Regions from separate parts of the Homo sapiens genome. Here regions 2, 3 and 4 are each linked to region 1. Evidence: fine-mapped expression QTL. A gene starts in region 1. Each other region holds a variant in brackets. All regions are shown on one strand. Distances are between the middles of the regions. Region 1 holds the start of EDEM2 (ER degradation enhancing alpha-mannosidase like protein 2). Region 2 overlaps TRPC4AP (transient receptor potential cation channel subfamily C member 4 associated protein). Region 3 overlaps TRPC4AP (transient receptor potential cation channel subfamily C member 4 associated protein). Region 4 has its middle 8.4 kb from the start of TRPC4AP.

Region 1 (8,108 bases):
TACCCTCTTTACCTCATGGCCTCCCACCAGAGGTTGGAAATCCAGAAGCTTTCTCGGCCTCCTTTGCTGCTGCAGTTGATTGTGTTACCCAGTCAATTCTGACCCTTGAGAGGTCTACTGGGGGCACTTCTGGGAAGGCTTCTGTTTTCTTAATACCAAGGGACAAACACAGCTAACATGGCTTTTAGTCTCTCTCTTTCTGCCTTGAACTCAGACTCGATTTCTGAAGTGATGGCAGCTATGTGAGACCATGACGTACTAAGCATTAGAATAAAAGCCAAAACACTAACGATACTAGAATGCAAAGCTACAAAGAGGCTGGTCTCTAATGACACAGTTGCGTAGCTGACCCAATGCTAGAAATTACCTCTAGACTTTCTTTTACTTGAGAAAATAAACCCTCTTTATTTAAACCGTTAGCCAAATGCAATCTCAATCTCTCTTCTTTTGATAGTAACATCTCAATTTACCCTCGAGGAATCACTCTTCCCCGGCAGTCACTCCTGTGGTTTGGGAGAGGCTGATCCCATCCCTCTAGCTGTGGAGTGGGTACTTGACCTGAACCAGTCCAAGTCTTTTTTTTGAGACAGGGTCTTGCTCTGTTACACAGGTTGGAGTGCAGTGGTGTGATCATAGCTCATCACAGCCTCGAACTCTGGGACTTGAGCAATGTTGGCCTCCCAAAGTGCTGGGATTACAGGCATGAGCCACCACACCTGGCCCTTTTTACCTTTCTAAGCATCAGGTTTCTTTTATATCTTTTTTTTGTTTGTGTGAGACAGGGTTTTACTCTGTTACCCAGACCAGAGTGCAGTGGTGCGATCTCGGCTCACTGCAACCTCTGCCTCCCTGACTCAAACAATCCTCCTACCTCACCCTCCTCCCTAACAAATGGAGCCACAGACATGTGCCATCATGCCTAATTTTTTATATTTTTGGTAGAGACGGGGTTTCACCATATTGCCCAGGCTGGTCTTGAACTCCTGTGCTCAAGCAGTCCTGCCGCCTTGGCCTCCCAAAGTGCTGGGATTACAGGCGTGAGCCACTGTGCCCATCCCTAAGCATCAGGTTTCTTAACGATAAGAAGGAGTAAAGGTACTAACCTCAAGAAGTTGTTAGAAGAATTAATACATGTCTGTACTAAGCCCTACAGAAACATACTAACTAGTCACTGATATTATTTCTTTATAATTTTTTTTGAGATGAAGTTTCACTCTTGTCACCCAGGCTGGAGTGCAATGGTGCAATCTCGGCTCACTGCAACCTCCGCCTCCCGGGTTCAGGCAATTCTCCTGCCTCAGCCTCTCCAGTAGCTGGGATAACAGACATGTGCCACTATGCTGGGCTAATTTTTTGTATTTTAATAGAGATGGAGTTTCACCATATTGGCCAGGCTGGTCTCAAACCCCTGACCTCAGGTGATCTGCCTGCCTCGGCCTTCCAAAGTGCTGGGATTACAGGTGTGAGCCACCATGCTCAGCCTGATACCCTTTTATTATCATTGAACATGGCCACTAGAATGTAAGCCTCTGAAAACAGGAGATGTCAAAGTCTCTGTATCCCCCATAGAGCTATGCAAGCCTATCACAATTCTCCGTACATAACAGGTCCTCTATAAATGTTTGCTAAATAAATGAATCTGCATAAGTTGTAGTTCGTTTTTCCCCTATCTAGCTAGGCAACCACAGCCGGACGCTTCAGAATCATGAGATGCAAATAAAAGGCCTAGGAGAGGAATTCATTTTTCACCCACAGTCACGCTGCCAAAAGAGGAAGGATGTTGGTTATGTAACAGTGGAAAGGAAAAGAAACAGACGAGATACTTACCAGCAAGGTGTCCAGTGCATCAATTAGAGTCAGAGAAAAACTGCAAAAGGACAGAAATCCCAGCCGCTTAGTAAGAAAATCAAATACCAGATATTATGGCTGCCCTAGATCTGATCCCCCTAAAACTAAATGAGGCAAAGTAATGCCTCTGCCTGTCCCACTTACAGTCACAACAGAGAAACCACAGTGAAAATCGCAGGTATTCTCTGACCCACTTAATGCACCTGGGAGGGTTGGCTGATGTAGCTCAATTGTAATTAAATACATCACCTATAGTCTGGCATTCTCCTCTACCATTGGGAGGCAGTATAAGATTGCAGCTTAAAGCACAGGCCTTTCACCAATTTTCACCTCTAGGAATTTAATTCACAGTGAACAGCTGTTTGAGAGTGTTCATGGCAGTATTGCTTAGAACAGCAAGAGGCTGGAAAGAACCCAACTGTCCACCCATTAATGGGTGATTAAACTGTGTTATAAACAGTGCAAAACTATGAGTTATCAAAAAGATTGTTATCAAGACTTCTATGTGCTGATGGAAAGACATTCGAATTGTTTTTAATGAAAAAGTCAGGGTGGTTTAGTATGTTTCCATCTGTTTCAAAAAGACATGCTGACAGAAAGCAGACAGCAATTGTTAGGGTCAGTGGTGGTGCAGGGATGAACTATAAAGGGCCACAAGGGAACTTTTTAAAGTGACAGAAGTGTTTCATATCTTGACTGTGATGGTGGTCACTTCAAACGAGTGTAGGCTGGGCACAGTGGCTCATGCCTGTAATCCGCCAGCACTTTGGGAGGCCTAGGTGGGTGGATCACCTGAGGTCAGGAGTTCAAGACCAGCCTGGCCAAATGACAAAACCCCGTCTCCACAAAAAAATTAGCCGGGTGTGGTGGTGGGCTCCTGTAATCCCAACTACTTGGGAGGCTGAGGCAGGAGAATCGCTTGAAGCCAGGAGGCGGAGTTTGAAGTGAGCCAAGATCACGCCATTGCACTCCAGCCTGGGTAACAAGAGCGAAACTCCATCTCAAAAAAAAAAAAAAAAAAAAAAGAGTGTATTTTATTATATGTAAATTATGCCTTTAAGAAGTTCATTTTAAAAAGATACACATACACACATCTATATATATAATGGTATAAACCAAGAATATTTCTGGACAGATACAAAGGAAAGTTAATAGTTGGAATTCTAGGGTATGGGAGATATTTATTGTATATAATCTTTTACCACTTGAATTTGCCATTTGTATTTACTTTGTTTCAACTTAAAAAAATAAAAACCATCACAAGTTTTGAGTTTAATTTCTCCCGACCTTAGCACATTCGTGTGTAAAACAGGGATAATGGCACCTAACTCGTAGGGGTATTAAGATACTGAGCTGAGATCTGAATGACAAGCAGCAGCCAGTGATGGGAGGAAAATGGGGAGTGTATTTCAGGCACGGGGCACACCAACTACAAAGACTTAAGTTTTAGGAGTGTCACACTCCTTCCTGGATCTGAATGCCCACCTACATAATGAAAGGGGTGGGTTTTCTAATTCTTGGAGCCCTTCCACGGTATCTCGTTACTCCAGAAATTGCCTATGTCCCCACAGCTGATGCCTGTTACTGCTGGGGCTGAGCTCAGCGATCCAGCCCACCCGGCTAATCCAGGACTTTTTTTTTCACTGCGAGAGGCTAAGTGGATCCTGGAGGTGATAGTAAGAATTGCGGGGAGCGCGGCTCTAGCTCAGCTGGGAGCTTTCTGGTGCCGGTGAGGAGACCATGAAGCCACCAGCCCCAGCTGACCCGCCCGCCGAGGCCCAGAGAGTCAGACCCTGGCCGCCCCTTGCCCCTCCGCTCGCACTACCTGCCCCAGGTGTCGTGCCCGTCACAGGTGAGAGGTCGCAGCTCATCGAAGGGAAAGGCATTCTCCAGGTAGCTGTCGTAGGCGTGGTAGAACATGGCCTTGACTCGCTCCCTGGGTGGGGGACGAGAAATCAGGCATGGGGCAAGAACACAAAAACAAGCGGGGGAAGAACAAGATACAGGGCGGAAAGTGGGAATCACTAGCTGATTTCTCCCTGGGACCTAGCGGCTGTGTCGGAGCAAGTCGGGGTCTGGGATGGACGGAAAGGGAAAGGACCGGGTTCACGCTTCCCATTCCCCAACTGCGAAAGGGCGGGTCACAGTTCACCTGTAGTGGGCGGGATCTGGCGCGGAGCCGTCGGGACCTGGCGCACCATGGTGCTGAGGCAGCAGCGCGCACAGGAGGCCGAGCGGGATGAGCAGCCGGAAAGGCATAGAGCTCGTGTCCTCTCAGCGCCCCCGCAGCAGCAGCAGCCACTGCAACCAGTTCATCCTGGGAGCTGCTGCGGGTTCTTCCGGGAATCCGCGCCACTGCGCCTGCGCGCTGAGAAATCAGCCTCTCACTTCCGGACTACAAGCCCCTGAATGCAATGGGCAGCGAAACGCGGCCGAAGAGCAACTTCGGATGTACGGTTTCGGCAACACTGATCAACGTGTCTTAAAGTCAGTGGCTGTTGTTACTACTGTTATTAATTAATGTTTTAATAATAACAGCTAGCATGTATTGAGCACTTATTGTGTACTAGTACTGTACGGAGCATTTAAAATGCATTCTCTCATTCATTTTTTTCAACAACCTTATTAAGTATGAAGGCAGGGTAAGCATGAGAAATGTTCAGCCTTTACCATTATTACCTAGCAGGACAAGCCGCAGACAAAACTCCTCAGACACCGGGTTAAAGAAGGAAGGAGCTTTATTCGGCCGGGAGCGTCAGCTGACTCACTTCTCAAAAACGGAGCTCCCCGAGTGAGCAATTCCTGTCCCTTTTAAGAGCTTACAACTCTAAGGGGGTCCGCGTGAGAGGGTCGTGATTGATTGAGCAAGCAGGGGGTACGTGACTGATTACCGGTGCACCGGTAATCAGAACGGAACAGAACAGGACAGGGATTTTCACAATGCTTTTCCATACAATGTCTGGAATCTATAGATAATATAACCGGTTAGGTCAGGAGGGGTCGATCTTTAATTACCAGGCCTGGAATGCATCGCCGGGCTGTCTGACTACTGATTTCACTTCTGTCTTTCTTTTAACTCCTACATTTTCTTTGAGGCAGAAATTGGGCATAAGACAATATGAGGGGTGGTCTGCTCCCTTATTTAGGGATATTGAGTTTCCCAAACCAGTTACTTGTTGATTGTATAAGACACAACTCACATTTATTTGTCCAAAACTTCCACTCTTTTTTTTTTAAAACCTCTTGCATTTTCCGATGCTGTCACTCTTGAGGTTTCCTGAAATCCCGTCAGTTCTAGGAATTCATGACACTTCTCTCCTCCCAATTTGGGATGTGGTTACACAATCATGGTCCCTTCAGTCTCCATCTCAAACCGGAAGCTTTACCCCTGTCAGCCCTGTAGAATGTCTTGGGTAAGAATGAATACCCTGGTTGGGCGCGGTGGCTCACGCCTGTAATCCCAACACTTTGGGAGGTTGAGGTGCGTGGATCACCTGAGGTTAAGAGATAGAGACCAACCTGGCCAACATGGTGAAACCCCGTCTTTACTAAAAATACAAAAATTAGCCAGGGGTGGTGGCGGGTGCCTGTAAATCCCGGCTACTCGGAAGGCTGAGGCCGGAGAATCGCTTGAAACCGGAAGGCGGAGGTTGCAGTGAGCGAGGATCGCGCCACTCCACTCCAGCCTGGGCAAAACAGCAAAACTCCATATCAAAAAAAAAAAAAAAAAAAAAAAAAAAAAGACAAATGACTACCCTGGGGCACTATAGCTTTCAGGAGGTTTGTGATCCATTTCTCCATTCCCCTTATTCCCAAGTTTCTAAAATTTGGTCAGCACCTTAGACCACAGCAACACCCATGACTTTGGTCAGTGTGACATGCGGTAGAACCAACACTGGATTTGAAGTCAGATCTAGGATCCAGTTAATTACAACTCTGTCACTCATCTATAACCTGTGTATGTGACCCTCTCCTTCTCTGGGGCTAGCATCCTTGTCTATAAATAATGAGGAGTTTGAACAAATGGATCTTTAAGATCCTTTTCGGTCGAGCTTTCTATGATTCTAGGATTGGCTATCTCTTATTTGCTGAAAAAGTCAGATGGAAGTGATAGCTCAGTTTGTTGAGCCAGAGTGCAGCCAGGCCTCCCAAAGTGCTGGGATTACAGGCATAAGCCACTGTACCCAGCCTGGGATGTTTTTAGAAACTCTTCTTGGCCGGGTGCAGTGGCTCACGCCTGTAATCCCAGCACTTTGGGAGGCCAAGGCGGGCGGATCACGAGGTCAGGAGTTCAAGACCAACCTGGCCAATATGGTGAAACCCTGTCTCTACTAAAAATACAAAAATTGGCCGGGAGTGGTGGCAGACGCCTGTAGTCCCAGCTACTCAGGAGGCTGAGGCAGGAGAATCGCTTGAACCCGGGAGGTGGAGGTTGTAGTGAGCCAAGATCAAGATCAGGCCACTGCACTCCAGCCTGGGAGACAGAGCGATACTCTGTCTCAAAAAAAAAAAAAAAAAAGAAACTCTTCTTGGGGCTTCCAAATGGAAGGGAAAGGAGATGACAGTAAGCTGAGACCTGGATAACAACACAGGAGCACTGTATTCGTTTCCTGTGATTCCTGCAACAAATTACCACAAACCAAGTGGCTTAAAGCAACAGAAATTTATTCTCTCGCAGTTTGGGAGGTCAGGAGCCTGAAATCAATTTCACTGGGCTAAAATTAAGTTATTGACAGGGCCACACCCACTCCAAAGGCTCTAAGGGATAATCCGTTCCTTGCCTCTCTAGATTCTCCTGACTGCTGGCATTCCTTGGCTTATGGTTGTATCACTCCAGTATCTGCCCGTGCCTTCATATCGCCTTCTCTGTGGATGTGTCACATCTCCTTCTGCTTTTCTCTTATAAGGACATTTATAATTGCATTTAGGACCCCCCCCGCGCCCCCCCCAACCCAGATAATACAGGATAAACTCCCATTCCAAGATTTTTAACTTAATCACATCTAGGGGGAAAAAAAAAAAAAAACACCATTTTTCCAAATAGAGAAACATTTACAGTTTCCAGAGATTAGGACCTGGACTTTAGGTGGCTGTTTCCAGCCTAGCGCAGGGACTAAATATTTTTCAGACCTGGGCCTTTCCCTGTGACGAAATTCACCTTCTCCATATTATAAATCCTATAGCTTATCTTTTTGTCTCCCATTCAAAATTCTAGTGTGGATAAAACTTTTGCAGGAAGGGTGGGTTCAGGTTGCCTGGATTTGGTAACGATAGGTCTCTCTTTATGAGCAAGATTGAAACACTCATGATTTTCCTTTATATTCTTTTTCTAGCTTGATGTCATTCTCCACACTGTCACTGAACAAATAAAACCATGACTTACGTTTTCACAATTCATGTGACTATATGTTCTCTAATGAGAATAAAAAAATTGTTTTACCCTCTGGAAAGTATCAGGACTCTTCTTTCTCTCACTCTGTGTTTATGATATTGGATTCTAGAAGGTTATGACCCACCAGTGAAGTGTCACACTTGAGCATTTACTTGTGAAGAGACTCAGGGTAAGTTGCCTACCTCTCTGAGACTCAATTTCCTATTGTAAAATACAGAAATTGATGAGGCCATAAAGGAATTCTGGGAATTAAATGGGATAATGAAAGTGAACATTCTCAGCACAGTGACTGGTATATATTAAATTCTTGATACATATTAATTCTCTTCCCTGCCTCCCCAACTCTTCTTTTTTTTTTAAGGCAGGGCAGTTGTTTCCATTTACTGAGCATCTGCCCCGAGTCATCCAAGGTGTTATAGGCAATAGTTCCTACCCTCAAAAGTTTGAGGCACAGTGCTGAGCATATAACTAAGATTCCAAAATAATCAAGTCATAGTCCTTTCCCTTGAAGTGCTTGCAATTTTGTTAGAAGGGGAAGATGTCAATTGGAGAATACTTGGAATCATAGGGTGTTCAAGTCTTCCCTGTGGGTGAATAGAGTTTGGAGGGAGCTCAGATCACATCAGTATCTGAGGCCAATGTCCTCGGACTCTGTGTTCAGTGGAACAAGACTTGGACTGGTTGTCGGAAACCCTTGGTCTTGTTACTTGTTTATCCACTATCTCTGTGTGATCTCGGGCAAGTCATTTTCCCTTTTGGGGACTCAGTTTCCATATCTGGAAGATGAAAGAGTGAGACTATCTCTCAGCACAAGGAAAATATTAACAGATCCATACAGTTATTGCAAAAAATCAGAAAACAGAATTCA
Region 2 (8,108 bases), 140 kb before region 1:
AGCTGGGTCTCCAGAGACGCACTTCTGGAGTGGGGGACAGAAACCTGCTGGGCACCAGGACAAAGGAAGTGGTTTCCAATCGACCTTCCCTGCTGTGTGTCTGCCGGGGCCTCTCACCTGGGTCAGCGTCTGCACGTGGATGATGTTGATGAGGCGGAAGAGGAAGGACATCTGCGTGGGCACCTGGGATATGTAGGCGAGCAGGCGGCATTCAGACAGTACCTCGGCAACTGTGGAGGGAGGCAGGGGTGCAGCAGGTCAGGCTTAGGCCCAGTGGCTGGGTCGCCCAGGCCTTTCGTGGAGCCCCGCTTGGGTCCTGACTCTGAAGCTAGGAGCTCATCATCAAAACAGCTTCAACGAAAGCTGACTGTGGCAGAAAGAAGGACCTCCAGCTGTCCTGCTACCAGGCAAAGCCATGTTCTCAGAGTGCCCAGGAGCACCCCACCTCATCCTCCAGAACCAAGCTCAGGGCAGCTCTCCCTCAGCCCTCCCCAGACTGGCTCCAGACCCGTGCCCTCCATATCACACACAGAAGAGTTCCCTCCACAGGAAGATGGATCCATGACGCTGCATTAAGAAAAACAACGCAAAAGTTCCACTCCTTCTGCAGAGGTCCTAGCGCAACTGGTTTTCCACACCAGCTCTCAGGTGAGTCCGGCCCAGTGCTGAGACCACAAGGCACAGGTTCTGCTCCGTCCACTAGTGTCGGAGCAACTGCTTCCCGCACAACTGGGAGGCAGGGCAATAACCGAAGGTACCAAAATCTGTGTGGCTGTTCCCCTGAAACAGACCCTCTGGGGCAGAAAAAGGAAGCAAACGGCTAAATTACCAACAACCGGGATACTTCTTGCTATCAATGACAGTGACCGTGACAAGGAACAAGTGCCTGACTTTTTGGGGGTGTGGGGGGGTCACAAACCCTCAGGAGAATCTGCTGGATGCCACAAGCCCTCTCCTAGGAAAAAAAGGAAACGCGTGCGCATACACATGGAAGTGCGTTAGCAAGTCCAGGAGGGTTCAGATGCCTGCTGCACCACAGGGCACCTGCGATGCCACGCACAGCACACTGAGGACGAGGGGGCCAACTCATCGTGCCAGGCAATACCAGCCCAGAAGAGGAAGGTCTTTTTCTGGTTTTCTTTGCATCTTGCTAGCAACAATGGATTTTCACCTTATTAAAGTGTTGAACAAGGCAGCAAAGCCAATTGCCCTGGAAGCCGCCACCTTGAGGCCGGCCACGTGGGCATCTGGTGCAGCTCCCTCAGTCATTCTTGTCTCCCTGCTGGAGACAGGGTGTCTGATGCCAGCATTCTTACCCTGCATGACTTGCCTTGACAGCCTGCCTTTCATGTACCTTTCATATCCACCTGGTTTTCAAATCGGTCCAGGGACAGAGTGACACAGCGCACCAGCATGTTGGAGTCCACCAGGGAGCTGTTGATCTGCTTCAGGAATACCTGGAACTATACAGAAACCAAGCTCACAGCAGGCAGTGGGCTGCTGGCCAGGTATGGCCATGGCCCGGGGGGATAGTCACTACAAGGGGCATCAGCGACCTCTACCAGCCCCACTGCTTCAGATAGGAAGACAGAGGCTCAGATAAGCTGAGGGACCTCCCCTCACCACCCAGGTACTAAGAGGCACTCCCCGGAATTCAGCACAGATCCGACACTCTCTCCAGTGGTTTTACGCTCAAGGGTGCTGGATTCCTTTAATTTTTACTTTTAATTTTACTTCAGCTAGCCTGAGCTGGGTTTCTGTCACACACACTCGGTGAGCCTAACACACCAGGCCCAGTCCCTCCCTACAGCGGCTCCCACCGTGGCACCCACCATGCTGCGTCACGGCAGGCGCACAAGCCACCCATTCCCACCCTCACTCCCTACCCACAAGCAGCCCCGGTTTTCATCCCTGCATTCCCAGGGTCTAGCACAAAGCCAGACAGAGCAGGTTCCAATGAATGTTTGCCAAAGACTGCCCAGACTCCCCCGTCGTCTCTAACGTAAAACCTGTGCCTAAAGCCTGGCAGACCAGGACTCCAGGTGAACTTCTGGACAACCCAGCACACTCCACAGAGCCCTGGGTTAACTTTACCTTTGCATCGGTGTTGATATATTTATTGAATCTCTTGAATGCATCAACGTTGAACTTCATCAGCTCCCCCAGGAGGTCAAAGTAACTCTGGAGCACATCCCTTGACTTACACTCGCTGTCCACAATGCAGTAAAGGATGTGCTGGGTGAGGAGGGACAGGGTGAAGGTGTCAACGTGGCTGCCCCCACCAGGGCCTGGCATGGAGCTCAGACCATGCATTGGCTTTGAGCAAGCATCCTGGGGATGGAACTGGCAACACTGTCTAGATTCTTGTCTGAGGATGCTGGTGGCTCCAAGGACAGGACCAGGCCTGACAGACCTCACCAGGAGGTGGAGCAGACTGGGAATGCAGCACAATCTCTCCCCTGCCCAGGGCGTACAGCTGAAGCCTGTGACCTGCTCTGTGGTCACCAAGATGGCCGGGGTGCTCAGCTCCTAGGTGAGGGGAGCTGTCATCACCAGGTCTAAAACACAGGCCACTGCCTAAGCACTGAGGTCATTCAAGTAAATGAAGGACAGAATTTAAAAGCAAAGGACACATTTTGACCCCATGGTTTGTCTTTGTGTTTATGAACGAAATTGTTTAAATAGAGTTTACACCAAAATACTGAGTTTTCATCAAGAGAATAAAGCCAATTTACTCCTTTATAAAGTTTTCTACATTTTCTTGAAGTTACATTGATTTGGATCAATTCTTTTCCACATGGATTTTATAATTCGTGGGTCAGTTTCTTGTCCATATGAAAAAATCTGAAAGACCAATTATAACTTTGGCCATTCTGCTCTAAGTTTTACTTTTTCTGAAGACCATTATTCAATAAAGGAAAATTAACTTTTAGTACAAAATATCTTCAGGGTCAAAATGCCTTGCTGGGTAACCAAACTGTCACCCTCCTGCATGGCCTGGCCACCCTCTAAACCTGTCACCCCGTAAGCACCCATGGGGAACCCACAGTTGGAAACCCAGGGCAAAATCTAAGGCAGCCTGCACAGGCATTTGGAAGTCACGAGATCTGCTCTGCTCCTGATGAACTGTTTGGGGCTCAGGACAGGACACAGCAACGCGTGGGCTGGGGGGAGACGGAACCCAAGACACTGGCTGCTCCAGATCATACCTCCAAGAGGCCTCGCTTCAGCAGGAACATCTGGTCTGCATAGGAGGTGGTCCCTCGGAGGAAACTCTCCACAGCCCGAGCTTGCCAAAACCTGCGACCCAAATACTGGCTCAGGTGGCTAAGGCTGCCCTCTTCCGGCCCATGTTCAGTTCTCCAAGGGGTTGGGAGATGTTTGTTGCCTTTTCATGTACTCAACATTTACTGAACATCTACCAAGCATCAGGCTTCATCCTGGGCCTGGGGACACAGCAGTGCCCCCATCCTCACAGAGAGCCAGCTCAGTGGAGAAGTCTTCTATCTGGGTCTGTCTGGAAGGGG[C/CTT]TGTGTCACAGAAAGGGTAACATCTGGGATCGAAGGGCTGGCTCCTGCGAGCCCCCGTGAAACATACTCTAGGCCTTGCCCTTTCACAAGAATGGGAGGACGTGCAATTGAGGGGCCAGGAATGTGTGTGGGAAGCGGACGAACACATGCAGACAGGCCACTGGGCTCACAGACGATGGGCTGGCCTAGGGAAGTAGTGGTTGATGCTGACCGAGGGACCCAGAGGGCACAGCGGGTATCCACGACAGGGAGTTTGGACAAGGCACTGAAGTGACAAAGGCCCATGTGGGCATGAAGCCTCCTGACAGCTCACGCCCGGCCCTGATGGAACTCTACCTGTCCACTGACTTCAAGACTCATCTTAGATGTATCTAAGGACCTCAGAGAAGGTCTCCCTGTATTCACCCAGCCCCCAGCCCTAGCAGCGGAAGAGGCTTTCCTTTGCTGCTATAGCTCCTGGGCCAACCCTGGCTCCATTCCTTCCCACACTGCATTGAAACAGCACAGCTCTAGGGAATTCATGGCAGGGCCCGTATCCTAGTTCTCTCCCACCCATAAGGCACCAGCACAGAACAGGTGCTTGGTGAATGCTCGGTCACTGTGGGCTGCAGAAGAAGCTCTCACATACCTGTCGAGTCAAAACTACACAAGATGGCAGTCAAACCACCTCTCCCCAACAGTAATTGTGCTTCAGGAGGCATGGACGCTGGTGACTAAAGGAGGTATTCCTAACCTCCTGAGAAACACCTGGCTCTGCAGCCCCGCAGAATCGGCAGGTACTTTTCCCCAGACTCACCTGAAAGACGACTCTGCTGGCTCCTTCTTCATGACCTGCAGCAGACGAGTTAATAAGCCCCTCTTCCCATCACACACCAAACTCCTGAAATAGAAGAGAGATATTGGTGACAGATCTGAGAGGCTGACAGGGGCCCTGGGGATGGGTCATTCTGCTGGCTTAGGCGGTGAAAAACCATGGGGACATTTCCAAGTCTGCAGGATGCCTTCCTGCTCCAACTGGGTCCAGAGCCCCGGAGACCCCTGCAGCCACAGAATTAAACTGCCAAGTGCATTCCCACCACATCTCAGGCCAGCTTTCCTTCCCAGGCCAGAAACATATCCAGAATCAGACATGGCTTAGAACTGCCAGAGGAGAGCTGTTTATACCAAAAGTGTGTTGAAACAGGTCATGCCAGTCTGCCAGATGGGGAAAGACTCTGCCAATAGGGTGAGGCCCAGCGTACTCCGTGCCTGAGGTTCACTTCCAGCTGGCCTTGGGCAAGTGTCCACAACTCCAAGCCTCAGCTTCCCAGTCTATGAAGCAAAGGCAGGAGATGAGGAAATGACTCTGGCCCCGTCATGGGGGAAGGAAGACGGCCAGGCACGCAGGGGTCTGGGCCCTTCAAACAGAGCAGCTCTGCTGTGATCCACTGCAGACATCAGGGCAGGACTGGGTACAATTTTATTTGAATGAAGAGTTCTGCTACCTTAGAAAAAAAAGATTGGGAGGCCAGGAGAGGTGGTTCACACCTGTAATCCCTGGACTTTGGGAGGCTCACTTGAGGCCAGGAGTTCGAGACCAGCCTGGGCAACATAGTGAGACCCCATCTCTACAAAAAAAAAGTAAAAACACTAGCTGGGAATGGTGGCGCACACCTGTAGTCCCAGCTACTCGGGCGGCTGAGGCAGGAGAATCACTTGAGCTCAGAAGTTTGTGGCTGCAGTGAGCTATAACACCACTGCTCTGCAGCCTGAGAGAAAGAGCAAGACCTTGTGTCTAAAAAACAAAACAAAACAAACAAACAAAAAAGGTTGGGAAATCATGGCTCTTGTTGGATAAAGTCCACTGTATTCTGACGCCTGTGAGACTAGCCCCCCACTGCCTGGCTCCAGGTGAGGCAAACCTAACCCAGGTAATGCAACCTAACACTTGGCAGCAGGTAAGAGGCTTCTGTCTGTCCTGCTTGGCTGCAGATGCCACCAGGCAAGAAAGGAGCACATAAGCAAAGGGGCTGAATGCACGAGACAAGGCGGTGGGGCAGTGCGGAGCACACATGACTTCTGGCAGGTGACCTCTCTGAGGCTCACCTCATCTGTCAAGTGCAGGTACTGATGGGGCTCCCCTCCTAGGGCTGCTGTGAGGCTCCAATGAGAAAATGCAGGTGACATGAATACAATGCCTGGCACACAGGAGCCCTCAGGACACTGTAGCTGCATGTGAGAGAGGACACGCGTGCATACCTGGATGTGCTCACCGGTGAGCCCCCGGGGAACGTGGGCAGCCGGGATGGGCTGAGGGAAAAGCTGCACCCCTGCACTCACCTGTCGGTGTTGAGGACAGCTTCCACCTCAGGGATGTTGGCCTTGAGAGAGATGGCACTGAGTTCATTCAGCTCCTGGTTGTTGAGTAACAAGTACTTGTTCCTGAAACAAAATGGGTTGGAGGAGGTAAAGGACAGGAACTGGGGCTGCTGGGTCAGCACCAGGCTAGTGTAGGGAGTCTCCTGCCCACTTCCTGTGGACAGAATCTGAGAAGCCACCAGGCACTTTCCTCTAGCACCTCTCACTCCAGCCAGCACCTGCAGGAGGGAACTCTGGGCTCTCAGGCAGTGGAATCTCTCCCTGGCCCCACCCCCATCCCCGACCCCTGCCTGCCACATTCATCGACAAGGCCCCTTCCCTCAGCAGCTCTGGGCCTTTCTCTTTGCCTACATTTCCACTTGTTTTCTCAAAGGCACCAACACCTCAACAGGTCCAATCACACTCAAGCCTGGCCCTGCTGCAGCAGTCCCACCAAGCACCACGGTCACACATCACACAGAGGCCTGGTTAACTGTGACACTTCCCCCGACTTGCCATCCAGGCCTGTCACTGCTGGGTCCTGTGTTCCCAGGACACCAGCTCCCTTTACTAAAAGGTATCCCACAGGAACTGAGTCATCACACGGTGCCAAAAGTGATCTTCAGAATCAGGACTCTGATCCTGTCACTCCCGGTGAAAACACTTCCACAGCTTCCCACTGCATTTAGAACAGACATTTCCTGACTTAGGAGGAGGTTATGTCCTGATAAACCCATCGTATTTGAAAATGCCGTTAAGTTGAAAACATATTGAGGCCGGGCGCGGTGGTTCACGTCTGTAATCCCAGCACTTTGGAAGGTCCAGGCGGGTGGATCACGAGGTCAGGAGTTCGAGACCAGCCTGGCCAACGTGGCGAAACCCCATCTCTACTAAAAATATAAAAAATTAGCTGGGCGTGGTGGCACACGCCTATAATCCTAGCTACTCAGGAGGCTGAGGTAGAATTGCTTGAACCCAGAAGGTGGAGGTTGCAGTGAGCCAAGATCATGCCACTGCACTCCAGCCTGGGCAATAGAGCAAGATTCCGTCTTGAAAAAAAGAAAAAGAAAGAAAACACATTTAATATATCTAACCCACTGAACCTCCTAGCTTAGCCTAGCCTACCTGGAATGTGCTCAGAACACTGACTTCAGCCTACAGTTGGCCATAATCACTGGCAACACGGCAGGCACAGCACAGAGTACTGGTTGTCTACCTTGGTGATCGTGTAGCTGGTCACCATTTTTCTTGAAATACATTCTGAGCTGCAGCTGCAGCTCAGTGCCCAGCATTGCAAGAGTATTGAACTGTTTATCATGAGCCCAGGAAAAGATCAAAATTCAAAATTCTACTTCTGTACCATTGTGAAGTTGAAAAATTCTAAGTGGACCATCTGTATATAAAATCCAGGCCTGTGACTGTGACCCACAACACCCTGTGACTGTGACCCACAACGTCCTGTGCAGCCCAGCCCAGAGCCAAGCCCACATCACTCCCATCAGCTGGCCACAATGGTCTTCCCTCGTTCAGGGGCTTCTGGCTAGAACACACACCCTCTCACATGCCTGTTCACTCAATTCACTACAAGCTGACACTTCAGGTCTTGGCTGGCAAGCCACTTCTGCAGGGGAGAGTTCCTGAGTGTCCTCTGGCCAGTCCTGGACCCTGTCAAATGTCTCTCACAGACCCCGTTCCTCTCCTCCTGAATACCATCTCCACTTATCACTAATGCTCAACGGTGGAATCCTTGGATGAACAACTGTCTCTGTTTTCAGACTCTGCCCTTCATGAGAGCAGGGGCCATGGCTGTTTGCATTCATCCTGATATCCCACAGAGTACTCAGACTGAAGAGTCTGATGAAAGCCAGAGACTCACTTCCTCAGGGAAAACAGCACAGTTCCATAACATATGTGGTGCCATTTTTCAGAAGGTTAACATGCTTCCTGGAGCCCTTCTATGGCTTTCAGCCGGAAAACCTCTCACAGAGGATGGGTGCATATGATGGAGGTGCCCTGGGGCCACAGCTGTCTCCAGGCATGTTCTGTTAGCTCAAATGCAAGGTTTTTAAAATATTTAAACCAACATTTAAAATCAGGACCTTTCACATAAATCTTAATTTCTGCCTTTGCTTGGCAGAAAAAATCAGAAGTTATGCAACAGTGGGCCCAGTTTCCTGTGCACACGCAGCTGGCTGGAGCTGAGCTCACTGAAATTCTTGTTCACTAAGGTCCCCACATCACCTC
Region 3 (8,108 bases), 110 kb before region 1:
GTGATCCGCCCGCCTCAGCCTCCCAAAGTGCTGGGATTACAGGTGTGAGCCAACGCGCCCAGCCCTTTGATCATATTTTTAATGGCTGCTGTTAAATCTGGTATCTGGACCCTTTCACAGGAAATTTCTGTTGCCTGCTTTTTCTTGTGTATAGGTTACACTTCCTGTTTTTTGTGTGTATGTCTCAATTTTTGTTAAAAACTGGACATTTTAGGCTGGGTGTGGTAGCTCACGCCTGTAATCCTAGCACTTTGGGAGGCCAAGGTGGGTGGATTGCCTGAGCTCAGGAGTTCAATACCAGCAACTAGGTAAAATCCTTTCTCTACTAAAATACAAAAAATTAGCCGGGTGTGGTGGCATGCACCTGTAACCCCAGCTACTCGGGAGGCTGAGAGAGAACTGCTTGAACATGGGAGACAGAGGTTGCAGTGAGCCGAGATTGTGCCACTGCCCTCCAACCTGGGCGACAAGAGACTCCATCTCAAAAAAGGACATTTTAAGTAATATACTGTAGCAACTCTGGATACTGATTCCCCCTCCTTCAGGGTTTGTTGTTGTTATTTGCTTATTTATTAGTTTAGTGACTTGGTTAGACTATTTTCGTAAAGTCTCCTTCCCCAAAGACTGGTGAAGATTTTCATGTTGTGCCTCAGAGAGTGCAACCTTGGGCATGTACAGAGTCTCCCTGGGATGACATTGAGCCAGGCTGTCTTTGACTAGCTCTTTCCATGATCTCTCTGTTAAGCTTTCTACCTCTTCTGGTATCACATCCAGCTGTTAGGCTCTACTAACTGCTGACTGAATTCTCGACTGTTTTTGATAATGCCCTGGAGTATACACTGCTCCAAAGTCTAATTCAATTAAATTCAGGAAGGGGTAATTTTTGAAATTGAGCTTTGTTCTGACCTTGGGAGAGTTCTTCTCAGCTGTCTCCTTCCCTGGTTCTCTGGTGAACTAGCTGGCCTGTAGATCACCCTGTTCTTAATTAAGAAGAGGGTACCTGGCCAGGCACAGTGGCTCATGCCTATAAACCTGGCACTCTGGGAGGCCAAGGAGGGTGGATCACTTGAGGCCAGGAGTTTGAGACCAGCCTGACCAACATGGCAAAACCCGTCTCTATTCAAAAAAGAGAAAATATAAAAAATAAAAGAGTAAAGGCCGGGCGCGGTGGCTCACGCCTGTAATCCCAGCACTTTGGGAGGCCGAGGCGGGTGGATCATGAGGTCAGGAGATCGAGACCATCCTGGCTAACAAGGTGAAACCCCGTCTCTACTAAAAATACAAAAAATTAGCCGGGCGCGGTGGCGGGCGCCTGTAGTCCCAGCTACTCGGGAGGCTGAGGCAGGAGAATGGCGTGAACCCGGGAAGCGGAGCTTGCAGTGAGCCGAGATTGCGCCACTGCAGTCCGCAGTCCGACCTGGGCGACAGAGCGAGACTCCGTCTCAAAAAAAAAAAAAAAAAAAAAAAAAAAGAGTAAAAAAAAAGAAGAGGTACCTCTTTTTATTTGCTTACCATCAAAATCTCCTCAGGCATGAACTTCCCTGGACTCTGTTCTTATTAACTGCCTCTCTCTGTGGGCAAATTCTCAGAGCAGGGTCAGTAGCCTCTAGTCTTCCGGGCTTGCCTCTCCCAGTGTAAAACCTCTGTACATGAGCAAGCTAGGGCAAAGGTGATCAGAGCCATAGAATTCTTGGCCTCAAGTATGTGGGATAGAGCTTCCACACCGTGAGTACAGTATGGAGCTGGGTGGAGGAAGGAAGCCTCTGACCTCTTTGCCATACTCACCGAGAACTTAGTCTCTTCAATTTGGAGCTGGAGGGAAGAAGAAAAGCTGATGGCCCCCCACTCCCAATGAGAAACCTATTCCTTGTTTGGGAGCTGAGAATTCCTGGGTTTGTATATTCTGAACCTGCTGGCCAGAGTCAAATGCTTTAAGGCTGGGCACCTAACCAAAGATGGGCCAGAGTTCTTTACCAGGAAGCTGGAGCTGAGACTGGGAGTCTTCTTATTTAATAGGCAGTCTTCTGCCTAGTCCCATCAAGGGGACCAGGAAAAGGTAGGGTACAGTGAGAGAGAAGACTAAGAAACACTGTAGAAAGAAAAAGAGACGAGGAGAGAAGTTTCTAGGTTCCTAAGAATGCTCTGGTTACTGGTTCTTGTTAGTCCCTGAGACACAGCTGTCTCAGGTCTGCAACAAAGCCCTTCTCCCTGAAATCAGGTCCACTTTGGGGAGTTCAATGAAGTTTCTGTAACAAGCTGTCAAAAGAGTCTTAATAGTCATGGTCTAGAATTGCCTTGAGGACAATTCTACTCTGAGCAAATCTCAAATTAATCCTTCTTGGAAAGAAGAGCAAGAATGGTCCCAGGCGCCCAAGGAAAAGCTCCCGATCACTCAGGGGACCCATCCTTCCATACCTTGATTGTGCTCTGACTCCTCATTGGCCACTCGCATCAGGGCATCTAGCACCAAAGCATTGTCTAGCCATGTGTACCACTCTTCCAACTCCTGAAGGAAGCTGGCTGTGCCCGTTGACTCTGACACCTTTCGAGTCGCCAGTTTGCAAAGCCGCTCAACAAAGCCAGGAATGCTGAGAAGGGCCGCTGCCAGGGAAAGAACAAGCGAGGAAATTTTCAAAATAGAGACCAGCAAAACTACCCCTAAAGCCCTAACAAACAATCTGCATGATAGGAATAATTCTTACTCTGATAGTAGCTAAAGCTACTCTTTTAAAATGAATGTCAAACCAAGGTAAATAGTAATTATGTTACAGGCATAAGCTCAGTTTTTAGCAGGTACAGGGAAACAGGCTTTTTATCTACTGGGAATATAAATTAGAATAATCTTTATGCCTTAAATGTGTGTGTCTTTGAGCCAAGAGGTCAATTTCTGGGAATTTACCATAACGAAATAACCAGTCATATTACACGAGAATATCTGTATAAGGAGGTTCACTGATGTGGTTTCTGTAACAGCAAAAAGGTGAAGGTAACTAAATGTTCATCAACAGCTGATTAATTAAATACAATGACACATTTATACAATGGAATACTGCATAGACACTAAGAATGATGACACATACATCTTTATATAGTGACTCAAAACAGCTGTTTACTTGTTAGAGAGTAAATTATTAAACAATATGAATTTAATTTTCTTCAAAAATTTAAATATTTGCTTCTTCAAAATACA[C/A]AAGGAATGAAAGCATATATACCAAGGAATTTACTGTGGCTGTTCCTAAGCAGGAGAGAATACAAACAATTCTCTTAAAATTACTCATCTATAGTTTCTAATTTTCCTGTAACATTTACTAGCAGGATGAAAGATAAACATTTTTTTAAGGTAAAGAAAAAAACTGAATAATCACCCAATTTTTCTTTCCACCAATCTCATTTTATTCACAATGAGTGAGGTGGAAATTCTGATCGGCATATTAGAACATCATAAACTTTGGAGGCAGGGAGATCCAGATTCAAATCCTGACTCCATCATTTAACCTTCTTTAAAATGAGACTAATGCCTGATCATGTTTGCCTGTATATGCATTAAGTCTCCCTGGAAGGACAGAAAAGAAGCCAAGAGCAGTGGCTGCCACAGTAAACAGCCATAAGATGGAAACAGCCAAAATGTCCGTCAAGTGGAAAAGGGGATTTAGGTCACTGAGAGTAACAGTGGAACTGAAACTTTTCAATAAATACCTTTTTGAATCCGCAGATTTTTTGGAACCATGTGAATGTTACACCTAATTAAAAATTAATAAATAACTAGATATTTCAGGATATCAAGGGATTACTATTAATTTTTGATACAGTGGCAGTTACGTTTCTTAAAAGTCGTTATCATGTAGAAACACTGAAATATATGCAGGTGAAATTATACGATGTCTGGGGTTTACTTCAAAATAACCCAAGGTGAAGTAGGGTATAGTGAATGGGAGTAGAGATAAAGTAAGACAAGCTGGCCAGGCACGGTGGCTCATGCCTGTAATCCTAGCACTTTGGGAGGCCAAGGTGGGTGGATCACTTGAAGCTAGGAGTTTAAGACCAGCCTGGTCAACATGGCGAACTCCATCTCTACCAATAATACAAAAATTAGCCAGGCGTGGTATCGTGCGCCTGTAGTCCCAGCTACTCAGGAGGCTGAGGCATGAGAATTGCTTGAACCTGGGATGCAGAGGTTGCAGTGAGCTGAGACTGCACCACTGTACTCCAGCCTGGGCAAGAGTGATACTCTGTCTCAACGCGTGCGCACACAAACACACACACACACACACACCCCTCCCATAATTAGTGAGTGGCTATAAGATGATGTTTGACCTTAGTTATAAAATAAAACTACATTGAGGTTCCTCAAAAAGTTGGCCAGGCACGGTGGCTCACGCCTGTAATCCCAGCACTTTGGGAGGCCGAGGCGGGTGGATCACAAGGTCAGGAGATCGAGACCATCCTGGCTAACACGGTGAAACCCCATCTCTACTAAGAAGTACAAAAAATTAGCTGGGCGCGGTGGCAGGCGCCTGTAGTCCCAGCTACTTGGGAGGCTAAGGCAGGAGAATGGCGTGAACCCAGGAGGCAGAGCTTGCAGTGAGCGGAGATCGCGCCACTGCACTCCGGCCTGGGCGAAAGAGCGAGACTCTGTCTCAAAAAAAAAAAAAAAAAAAAAAAGTCAAACATAAAATTACCATATGACCCAGCAATTTCACTCCTACATATATACCCAAAAGAATTGAAAACAGGTGCACACACAAATATGTGTACACACATGTTCATAGCAGCACTATTCCCAACAGCCAAAAGATGAAAATATCCCAAATGTCCATTAACTGAAGGGATAAACAAACTGTGGTATCTACATGATGAGTATTATTCAGCCATATAAAGGAATGAAGTACTGACATGCTACAACATTAATGAACCACAAAAACATTATGCCAAGTGAAAGAAACCAGATTCAGAAGGCCACATGCTATATGATTCCATTTACAGTTATGCACTGCATTAACGCTGTTGCGGTCAACAACGACCACACAGAAGACGGTGGTGCCATCAGATTATAATACTGTATTTTTACTATACCTTTTTTCTATGTTTAGATACACAAATACTTACCATTATGGTACAACTGCCTACTGTATTTAGTACAGAAACATGCTGTACAGGTTTGCAGCCTAAGTGTATCATGGGCTATACCAGCTAGGTTTGTGCAAGTACACTCTATGACATTCACACAATGACAAAATCACCTCACTGCATTTCTCAGAAGGATAGAGACTGCTAAGTGACAACATGACTGTATATGAAGTAATCTGAATAGGTAAATCCACAGAGAAAAAAGCAGAATGGTGGTTGCCAGCAGTTGGGGAGAAGGGGTAATGGGAAGAAGCTGCTTAATGTGTACGGCGTTTCCTTTTGGGGTGATGAAAACGTGCAACTAGATAGAGGTGGTAGCTGCACAACACTGTAAATGTACTAAATGCCGCTGAGTTGTTCACTTTAAGACGGCTAATTTTATGTTACGTGACTTCCATCTCCATAAAATAATTACACAGAAATAGATTTTTGTTTGAGACACCATTTTTTTTTTTAACATATCAGCTTGGCAAATATAAAAAAGTTTGATAATGCTCTGTACTGGGAAAGGCTACAGACAACACGGTGGGGAAGATGAACAAGTAATTTCTTTGGAGGGTTAATTTGTCAACACTTACCAATTTCCATTAATGGGGGACTAATTAAATTACAGTATGCCTGTATAATAGAATATTATATAATTACAAAAAGGAATCATATAATTCTATATATACTAGAGTGTAATTTTTGGCAAGATAAGTTTAATAAAAAGAGAGCAGCACTTATTTTATATTACCTATTTACATTACCATCTGTACAAACAGGAGTCAATCTCTCTCTGTCCCTCCCTCCTTCCCCCGTCCCATGATTGGGCATGTATAGAATATTTTTCGAAGGACGTTTAAGAAACTGGTAAAAAGTTACCACAGGGAGGGGAACAAACTCTCTGCTGTACTTTTTGTATCATTTAAAAAAAATTTTAGGTGTGTATTATTTTTTCTAAAAACAAATCAGTAGGCGGGGCATGGTGGCCCATGCCTGTAATCCCAGCACTTTGGGAGGCCGAGGTGGGTGGATCACCTGAGTTTGGGAGTTCAAGACCAGCCTGGCCAATATGGCAAAACCGATGTCTACTAAAAATACAAAAAAATTAGTCGGGCCTGGTGGCGCATGCCTGTAGTCCCAGCTACTTCGCAGACTGAGGCACGAGAATCGCTTGAACCAGAAAGTGGTGGTTGCAGTAAGCCAAGATTGTGCCACTACACTCCAGCCTGGGCAACATAGCCAGACTGTGTCTCAAAATAAAACAAAGCAAAAAAAACAAAAAAGAAATAAAAAGAATTTGTATTCTACATGAAAATCTTCACATAGCTGGATTTTTACTCTTATACTTCTGTTCTCAGCAAAAATAGCTCCTGCTGCTTGACCTGCTCCTCTCAGGACAGCATGTAGGAGCTAGTCTTCCCCATTCCTGCACACTCAACACACTCCTCCAGATGGGAAGTGCCCGGTACTCAGGGTTCTAAGTCTGACTTCCCACCTGAGATTCTTGAGCTGTTGTGAGTCACTCACCTCTTGAAAAGCTAATAAAAGCTAAGACCTTCTCCCCAGAAAAAAATTCACTGGACCAATCATACCTAGCAACTCATACACAATCTCATGGGCTGACATCCCAGCATATCCAGTCCTTGTAATTCTCACAGCTTTATCAGTAGCTACCACACCTGGCTGGTTAATGTTAAACTGACAACTAAATCACTCACAACCCCTGAGAATTTCTGCAGAAGCAGGCCTCTTCTCTCTTCTCACTGTTGAAACATCAGTATTCCCCCCATACTCCTGTAGTTTCCCCTCCTGCTTTCCAGCTTCATGTGCTGCATAATTCAGCCCCTCTCAGCTAAGTGTCACTTATAAATTGACAATTATCTAGCCTATAGCTTCATTTACATCTCTGCTAAGAATCTTGAAAGACGTTACTTTCCCCCAGAAGGAAACCAGCTGTTCTCTTCTAAATCGACAGAAGAACAACTGGTAGTTCTGAGAATCTCAAAAAGGACTCAAAAAATAATTATTTATTTTAAAATGAATCTCAAAAAATAATGACTTACGCTATCTTCCTGGGGCTCAGATAATTTACATTAGATAATTACATGTAAATTATCTGAGCCCCAGGAAGATAGTGTAAATCATTATTTTTGCTAGACAAGAAAATGACCTCACAGCCACAGTTTATTAAAAACGAAACGAAAACTTTTTGGCAACATCCTACATATTTCAGCTTTCCATACAGTTATGGACTGTGTCCCCACCCCCCGCGCCCCCACAAATTCATACGTTGAAGCTCTAGCCCTAAATATGACTGCGTTTTGAAACAGGCCCTTTAGGGAATGCGGTGGTGTGATGGTTAATTTTAGCTGTCAACTTGACTGGACTATGGGATGCCTACATGGCTGGCACAGCACTGTTTCTGGGTGTGTCTGTGAAGGTGATTCCAGAAGAGATTGGTGTATGAGTGTGTGAACTAAGGGAAAATCTGCCCTCAATGTGGGCAGGCACCATCCAATTGGTGGGGGAGCAGTGGGAGGCGATGGAGGAAAACAAAAAGGGATTCTCCCCCTTCTGGAGTGGGAAGTTTTTCTCCTACTGCTCTTGGATATCAGACTCCAGGATCTTTGGCTTTTGGTCTCTGAGACTTGCACCAGCAGTTTCTGGGGTCCTCCAGCCGGGGAGCTACACCATTAGCTTTCCTGGTTCTAAGTTTTCCGGACTTGGACTGAGCCATGCTAATGGCTTCTCAGGTTCTCCAGCTTGCAGACGGCTTATCTTTTATTTTATTTATTTATTTTTGGAGACGGAGTTTCACTCGTTGCCCAGGCTGGAGTGCAATGGCACAATCTCAGCTCACTGCAACCTCTGCCTCCTGGGTTCAAGCAATTCTCCTGCTTCAGCCTCCCAGGTTGTTGGGATTACAGGCGTGTCACCATGCCCAGCTAATTTTTGTCGCAGATGGCTTATCATGGGACTCCTCCGCCTGTGATCGT
Region 4 (8,108 bases), 46 kb before region 1:
AAACTATATTTTATCTTTCTCTCTGTGTATATATACACATATATGTACATATATGTGTATATATACATATACATATATACACATATGTACATATATGTGTATATATACATATACATATATACACACGTGTATATATACATATACATATATACACACGTGTGTATATACATATACATATATACACACGTGTGTATATACATATACATATGTACACACGTGTGTATATATACATATGTACACACGTGTGTATATATACATATGTACACACGTGTGTATATATACATATGTACACACGTGTGTATATATACATATGTACACACGTGTGTATATATACATATGTACACACGTGTGTATATATACATATGTACACACGTGTGTATATATACATATACACACGTGTGTATATATACATATACACACGTGTGTATATATACATATACACACGTGTGTATATATACATATACACACGTGTGTATATATACATATATACACGTGTGCCTATATACATATATACATGTGTGCCTATATACATATATACATATATGTGTATATATACATATATACATATGTGTATATATACATACACATATATACATATACGTACATATGTGTATATATACATATACATACATATATATGTGTATATATACATATATACACATACATATATGTATATATACATATATGTATATATACAGCTCTTTCCATATATGTATCTCTCTCTATACTTCATTTATACGTAGAGAGGGTTTGTGTTAGTTTTGCTAAACATTTTTTTTTTTTTAGACAGGGTCTCGCTCTGTTGCCCAGGCTGGAGTGCAGTGGCACGATCATAGCTCACTGTAGCCTTGGGCTCCTGGGCTCAAGGGATCCTCCCATCTCAGCCTCTCAAAGTGTTGGGATTACAGATGTGAGCCACTGCACCCATCCTGCTAAGCCATTTTTTGCTAAACCATTTGAAAGTAAATTGTAGATATTATGACACTTCACCTGCATATTTTAGAATGTATCTCCTAAGATCAAGGACATGCTCCTAAAAACTATGATACCATCACACCCAAGAAATTTAATATTGATACAATTTATCTTTTTTTAAATTTATTTATTTAAGACAGGGTTTCACTCTTTTTGCCCAGGCTGGAGTGCAATGGCACAATCTCAGCTCACCACAACCTCTGCCTCCTGGGTTCAAGCTATTGTTCTACCTCAGCCTCCCAAGTAGCTGGGATTACAGGCATGCGCCACCACACCTGGCTAATTTTGTATTTTCAGTAGAGATGGGGTTTCTCCATGTTGGTCAGGCTGGTCTCAAACTCCTGACCTCAGGTGATCCGCCTGCTTTGGCCTCCCAAAGTGCTGGGATTACAGGCATGAACCACCATGCCCAGGCTTTTTTTCTTTTTTGACATGGAGTCTTGCTTTGTAGCCCAGGCTGGAACACAGTGGTGTGATCTCGGCTTACCACAACCTCTGCCTCCCAGGTTCAAGCGATTCTCTTGCCTCAGCCTCACGAGTAGCTGAGATTACAGGCACCCACCACCACACCCAGCTGACTTTTGTATTTTTAGTAGAGATGGGGTTTCACCATGTTGGCCAGGCTGGTCTCGAACTCCTGACCTCAAGTGATCTGCCCACCTTGGCCTCTCAAACTGCTGGGATTACAGGCATGAGCCACCATGCCTGGCCATTATTTATCTTATAATCCATATTCAAATATCTGCAATTACCCCCCAAATGTCCCTTACAGTCTCTTCCCCCCAGTCCAGAGTTCAGTAAAGGATCATGCATACATTTGAAAGCTATGTCTTGTCACTGTCTTTTAATCTAGAAGAGTCCCTCATCTCTTTTGTCCTTTCGGGATATTGACAGTTTTGGGGTCCGGGCCAGTTGTACTGAATACCCTGACATCTGGATCTGCTTTATTGTTTTCTCATGATTTGGTTAGGATTAAGCTTTTATGGCTAGAATATTAAACAGGTGATGGTGTGTCTTTCCCATTGCTTCATATCAGAAAGAAATAATGTAAATGTGTCCCATTATTGATGATGCTAAGTTTGATCTGTTGGATCAAACTTAATATGTCTTCATTGGAAACATACATTTTGGGGTTAATAAGTAATCTGTGGCCTTCAAGACTACGAGACTGTCTTGTTCTCCACCCACCTTTCACCCAGTAATGTTTGTGTTTGTTTGTTTTGAGATGAAGTCTCGCTCTGTTGCCCAGGCTGGAGTGCAGTGGCGCAATCTCGGCTCACTGCAACCTTCTGTTCTTCTTCTCTTGCCTCAGCCTCCCTCCCGAGTAGCTGGGACTACAGGCACGAGCCACTTCACATTGCAAGTTTTGCTTTTTTTTTTTTTTTTTTTTTTAGTAGAGATGGGGTTTCACCATTTTGGCCAGGCTGGTCTGGAACTCCCAACCTCAGGTGATCCACCCGCCTTGGCTTCCGAAAGTACTGGGATTACAGGCGTGAGCCACCGCGCCCAGCCCCCACCCAGTAGTTTTTTTTGTTTTGTTTTGGGTTTTTTTTGTATTTTTAGTAGAGACGGGGTTTCACCATGTTAGCCAGGATGGTCTCGATCTCCTGACCTCGTGATCCACCCACCTTGGCCTCCCAAAGTGCTAGGATTACAGGTGTGAGCCACCACACCTGGCCAACCCAGTAGTTTTTATCATCCCTTGATGATCCCTCCCTGGATTATCATGCTGGTGGTTGCAAAATTGTAACTTTCTAATTCTACCATTGCTTCCTCTTTTATTAGGTAATATTCCCCCCCAAAAGGAGCTCCCGCCCTTTTTCTGGGGTATCACTATGGACTCATAAACTTTTTTTTATTTTATGTGTTATAATCCATTACTATGGTTATTCTATTTTCCCTTGGTTTTATTAGGGTATCATTTACATAAAATGAAATGCATAGATATTAGGTAATATGTAATCTGATGAATTTTGACATATGTATATACTTGTGTAACCAACACCTGAATTTAACCAATACTCCCAATGGATATAGAAATTTCCATTACTCCAGAAAGTTCTCATGCACTTGTTACTTACTAACTCCAAAGGAGAAAAATGTACCTCTCCACTGTTCTAATTTTATCATCATAGATTAATTTTGACTGTTCCATAACTTCCTATAAATGGAACCATCTAATATATAGTCTTTTGTGTTTAGCTTTTTTCACTAAGGATGATGTTTTCTAGATTCATCCATGTTGATCTGCATGTCAGTGGTTCATTCCTTTTTACTGCTGGGAAGTGTACCGTCTCAGGAAATGATAGTCCAGGGCCGGGTGCAGTGCCTCACACCTAGAATTCCAGCACTTTGGAAAGCTGAGGTACAAGAATCGCTTGAAACCAGGAGTCTCTACAAAAAATTTTAAAATGAGCTGGGCTTGGTGGCACACACTTGTAGTTCTAGCTACTTGGGAGGCTGAGGTGAGAGGACTGCTTGAGCCCAGGAGTTGGGGTCTGTAGTGAGCTATGATCCCACCACTGCACTCCAACCTGGGTGACAGTGTGAGACCCTGTCTCTGAAAAAATAAAAAAGAAGATGATACCCTAAGATAAAGGCTTCAGAAGCAGCTCTCTCTGACCGTCTCCTGCCCTTCTGTCTCTGGCCTCTTATTCTCCCCTGAGGCTAGTCATAGAAACTAGAATCCCTCTTCCCCAAGGCAGGGTTTAGAAACCAGAAACTGGCAGGGCGCAGTGGCTCACTCCTGTAATCCCAGCACTTTGGGAGGTCGATGCAGGCGGATCACCTGAGGTTAGGAGTTCGAGACCAGCCTGGCCAACATGGTGAAACCCCATCTCTACTAAAAATACAAAATTAGCCAGGTGTGGTGGTACATGCCTGTAATCCCAGATACTCTGGAGACTGAGGCAGGAGAATCGCTTGAATGTGGGAGGCGGAGGTTGCAGTGAGCCAAGATTGTGACACTGCACTCCAGCCTGGGCACTAGAGCAAAACTCCATCTCAAAAAAAAAAAAAAAAAAAAAAAGAAACCAGAAACCTTCCTCCTTCCCCTTGCCAGCGGTGAAACCAAACCTAAAAATATTACTCTAACTCCCTCCCCCTAAACCACCACACCTTTCTGTGCATAAACTGGCCATCAAGAAATTATCCAACCTACCTGGTTTGACTGTAGGTCATAAGACCCCCATTCCAGAGAGGGTCCTGCTGCACACCCGGAAGGAAGGACAAGAACAAAACTCTGTCTCAAAAAAAAAGAAAAAAAATTCTGTGTGTGTGTATTTCTCATTCTTTTTGATGCTCAAATTGTCCCAAATTTGACCATTGGTAGTCCTCTCAAATTAATTCCTGTGTC[A/G]TCTTTGGGACAATCTTAATTTTAAATGGGCCCTGTGGGACTTAAACTTGTCCAACACTATGATCGGTTCTGAGTTCAGAAAATAGTCTCTCTAAATTTTTGTTCCAATCTCCACAGATGTAGATTCTTACCTCATTCCCAAAGCTAGTCACTCCTTAATCTACAACAGCCATTCTTCAGCAACACTGAAGACTCTTATGACATAAAGTTGAAACTTCTTTCCCCAAATGATGCATGCATCCGACACACAGGCAGACACACACGTGCATGCGCAGACACACAGGCAGACACACACGTGTGCGTGCGGACACACAGGCAGACACACGTGCATGCACACACACACACATTTTGCCAGTGGTTCTTGGATTGTTTACAGTGATCTCTAAATCACTGAACGCCTACTATGTATTAGAGATTGTGCTAGATGCAAAGAAATGCAAAGGGAAGAAAATAAGAAAATTAACATTTAAAAAAGACCTAGGCCCCATGTGGTGGCTCACACGTGAAATCCCAGCATTTTGGGAGGCCAAGGCAGGAGGGTCACATGAGCCCAGGAGTTGGACACAAGCCTGGGCAACATAGTGAGACCTCATCTTTACAAATATATATATATTTTTTAATTAGCCTGGCATGGTGGTGCATGCCTGTGGTCCCAGCTAGTTGGGAGGCTGAGGTGGGAGAACTGCTTGAGCCCTGGGGGCCAAGGCTGCAGTGAGCAGAGATTGCACAGTCCAGCCTGGGCAACAGAACGAGACCCCGTCTCAAAAAGAAAAAGAAAATACCTACCATGTATGTTCCGGACATTGTACTAAGTGTTTGATACATGTCATCTTAACAAAGATGCATAAAATAGAGATTTCATAAACTAACAAATTATCACAGCACACTAGAATACATACTATTGTAAATAAAGGCATGTAGTCACTGAATTACATTCATTCACCAGATATTTCTTGAAAACTTCCTATGTACAAGCTCTGCCCCAGGCGTGGGGGATACATCTGTGAATAAGACAAATGCAGCCTGTGCCTTCTAGGGCTCAAGTCTAGTGGAGGAAGGCAGACACATAAGCAATTACCATCAGAGCTCCAACCCACACAAACATTTTTAAAAACATATTATTGTAGAGACAGGTTCTCACTATGTTGCCCAGGCTTGTCTCAAACTCCTGGCCTCCAGCAATCCCCTCACCTCTGCCTTTCAAAACATTGGGATTGCAGGCGTGAGCCACTGCATCTAACCCAAAAATATGTTTCAAAAAGAAAAACAAAATCTAAAACCCACTGCCTCTGAATCTGTACTATATTCTTTGGAAGCTCCTCACAGGTGACAAATTAGCATTGTCTTATATACAACCCAAAGCCCTCTGAGCAGAGCTTGATGAATAAGTGGATAATTAATATCTTTTTTTTTTTTGAGACAGAATCTCACTCTGTCGCCAGGCTGGAGTGCAGTGGCATGATCTCAGCTCGCTGCAACCTCCAACTCCCTGGTTCAAGCGATTCTCCTGCCTCAGCTTCCCGAGTAGCTGGGATTACAGGCGTGTGCCACCATGCCATGCCCAGCTAATTTTTGTATTTTTGGTAGAGACAGGGTTTCACCATGTTGGTCAGGATCACAAGCTCCTGACCTTGTGATCCGCAGGTGCAGATAGAAAAGAAATCCCAGATTGAGTGTTGTGCTGTAATCCTAGAAAACAATCGATCAAATCAGAACAGACTCCATGAATAAAAAGAAGAGATTCCAACCAGAAATTAATGTCAGAAATTTGAAAAGGGAATATCATTTCAGATTCTTCAGCACCAAAAGATCATAAGAAGACATGATGAATAACTTTATGCCTATGTATTTGAAAATTTAAGTGGAACAGAAATATTTCTAGAAAAAAGTCTTACCTAAATGGACACAAAACATAATAGAAAATTGGAATCATCCTATAACTATTAAAGACATTTCATCTCTAATTTAAAAGGTTCCCACAAAGAAAACTCCAATCCCTAATGCCTTTGAAATCTACCACACTTTTAAGGAAGAAATAATGCCAACATCACATAATTTCTTCCAAAGGCCAGGAAAAAAGGTCACCAACCGACATGAAAGCAACATAACATTGACACCAACATAGGAGATAAGGTGCAAAAATATCTCTAATTTCATTTCATTCAGTTCAAACCGTGATACAGTTTGCCTGTGTCCCCACCCGAATCTCATTTTGAATTGTAGTTCCCATAATCCCCACATGTTGTGGGAGGGACCGGGTGGGAGGTAATTGAATCATGCGGGCAGTTACCCCCATGCTATTCTGATCATGAGTTAGTTCTCACAAAATCTGATGATTTTAGAAGGGGCTTTTCCCCCCATTCGCGCTTCACTTCTTGCTGCTGCCAGGTGAAGAAGACCTTGTTTGCTTCCCCTTCCACCATGATCATAAGTTTCCTGAGGCTTCCCCAGCTATGCGGAACTGTGAGTCAATTAAACCTCTTTCCTTTATCAATTACCCAGTTTTGAGTATGTCTTTATTGGCAGCGTGAGATTGGATTAATACAAACTGCTTTCATTAATAAAATTGCATCAATTTGTTGCAGCAATGTTGGGAACATCTAGTACCCTTGTTCTCAGTCTTGAGCTTGCATTAGAATCACCTGGAGGGGTTGGCTTTGTTAAACCAGATTGGGGGCCCATCTGTGGTCAGGGATGGGGCCCAAGAGTTTTAAATACAACAAGATCCTTGGTAATGCTGTTGCCTCTGCACCAGGGACCACTTTTGACAATCACTGACCCAGTGGCACATACTATTTTGAAATCTTGCTTGCCATAGAAGTAATGTTATTTGGAATGCTTGGACAGGCTCAGTATGTTGGAACAACTTCTAATTTAATTCTCTAAGGATGTAAAAAAAAAAATCTTGGTTAGATTGGCCAACATTGATATGATTGGCCAATTTCAATATGCTAAAGTAAATGATGTGGTCAGCTGTAATCCCTGAAAATTTGTTTTCAAGAAGTTGATTATCACTGTTTTTCCCCCAACATATATATGAATTTTAGCAGGATCCCTTTGTTTTCCTAAGATTTACAGCATATAAAAGAGTATTCCAAATAGCATTGCTTTCAGATTCTTCTAACAATTTTATAATAACTGTATTATATTTTCATTCATATTTGCTACTCTCATACAATGTCTTTATATTTGTCTGGACTAATCTGTATTGGCCAAAGTTACAATTGTCAATTCTCTGAATGCTTTTAATCCAGTTTTGTGAGAGAAGATTAACCAAACAAGAAGACCCTCCTTAAAATGTTCTTACCACTCATGTAAGATATAAGCTAAGTGTTGTGCAACTTTCAATTTGACTTTCTCTGGTTGGATTACAAAATCTATACGAGATTGTAACAGCATAATAAGCATTGTTTCCAACATTCCGCAACAGTATAGATTCAAGGAGAAACTCTATTATTGCTAAGGTATGTTTTTATGGCTTGCTACACCATAAAAACTATACACACCAAAATACATGCCAGAGAATAAATGTTTTTTTCAGGAACCATGTGAGCAATTTTTTTCTTTTGGCACATAATATGCAACCCAATACAATGATAATAAGGCTTTCTCACTGACAGTCACAACATGAATCATAAAATTTGCCTATCACATTATATATGTTTTTCTTTCTTTGGAAATATTCGAGAGACTGACTAATTCAACATGTCATGTTTCCAAGCATCTTTTAAGTTTTGATGGTTTTAAGTTCTCATTTGCAAGAACATCATTATAATGC

What was found. PIP is the estimated chance that this variant, and not a neighbour inherited with it, causes the effect. A credible set is the group of variants that fine-mapping cannot tell apart.
Region 2: its variant is the best candidate, but not a certain one, in a credible set for the expression of EDEM2 in left ventricle (GTEx, PIP 0.87).
Region 3: its variant is the best candidate, but not a certain one, in a credible set for the expression of EDEM2 in whole blood (INTERVAL, PIP 0.67).
Region 4: its variant is the best candidate, but not a certain one, in a credible set for the expression of EDEM2 in whole blood (INTERVAL, PIP 0.54).

Annotation. Positions count from the first base shown.
Region 1 is chr20:35,143,152-35,151,259 of GRCh38, forward strand. It overlaps EDEM2 (ER degradation enhancing alpha-mannosidase like protein 2), which reads right to left and starts at 4,185. Exons shown (of 11, transcript NM_018217.3): 1 at 4,001-4,185; 2 at 3,674-3,784; 3 at 1,828-1,867. The coding sequence starts at 4,107. MMP24-AS1-EDEM2 (MMP24-AS1-EDEM2 readthrough) reads right to left here. Exons shown (of 15, transcript NM_001355008.2): 6 at 3,674-3,784; 7 at 1,828-1,867. The coding sequence starts at 3,768. RefSeq lists enhancers at 3,367-3,970, 4,219-4,348.
Region 2 is chr20:35,004,341-35,012,448 of GRCh38, forward strand. TRPC4AP (transient receptor potential cation channel subfamily C member 4 associated protein) reads right to left here. Exons shown (of 19, transcript NM_015638.3): 12 at 5,847-5,948; 13 at 4,324-4,407; 14 at 3,210-3,300; 15 at 2,095-2,235; 16 at 1,355-1,463; 17 at 118-230. Among named protein-coding and RNA genes, the nearest start is that of MIR499B, 18 kb to the left of the region's middle. The variant C/CTT (reference allele first, on the strand shown) is at 3,528.
Region 3 is chr20:35,032,708-35,040,815 of GRCh38, forward strand. It overlaps TRPC4AP (transient receptor potential cation channel subfamily C member 4 associated protein), which reads right to left. Exons shown (of 19, transcript NM_015638.3): 8 at 2,416-2,601. Among named protein-coding and RNA genes, the nearest start is that of MIR499B, 46 kb to the left of the region's middle. The variant C/A (reference allele first, on the strand shown) is at 3,191.
Region 4 is chr20:35,097,195-35,105,302 of GRCh38, forward strand. No RefSeq gene overlaps it. Among named protein-coding and RNA genes, the nearest start is that of TRPC4AP, 8.4 kb to the left of the region's middle. RefSeq lists enhancers at 4,164-4,665, 4,666-5,165. The variant A/G (reference allele first, on the strand shown) is at 4,331.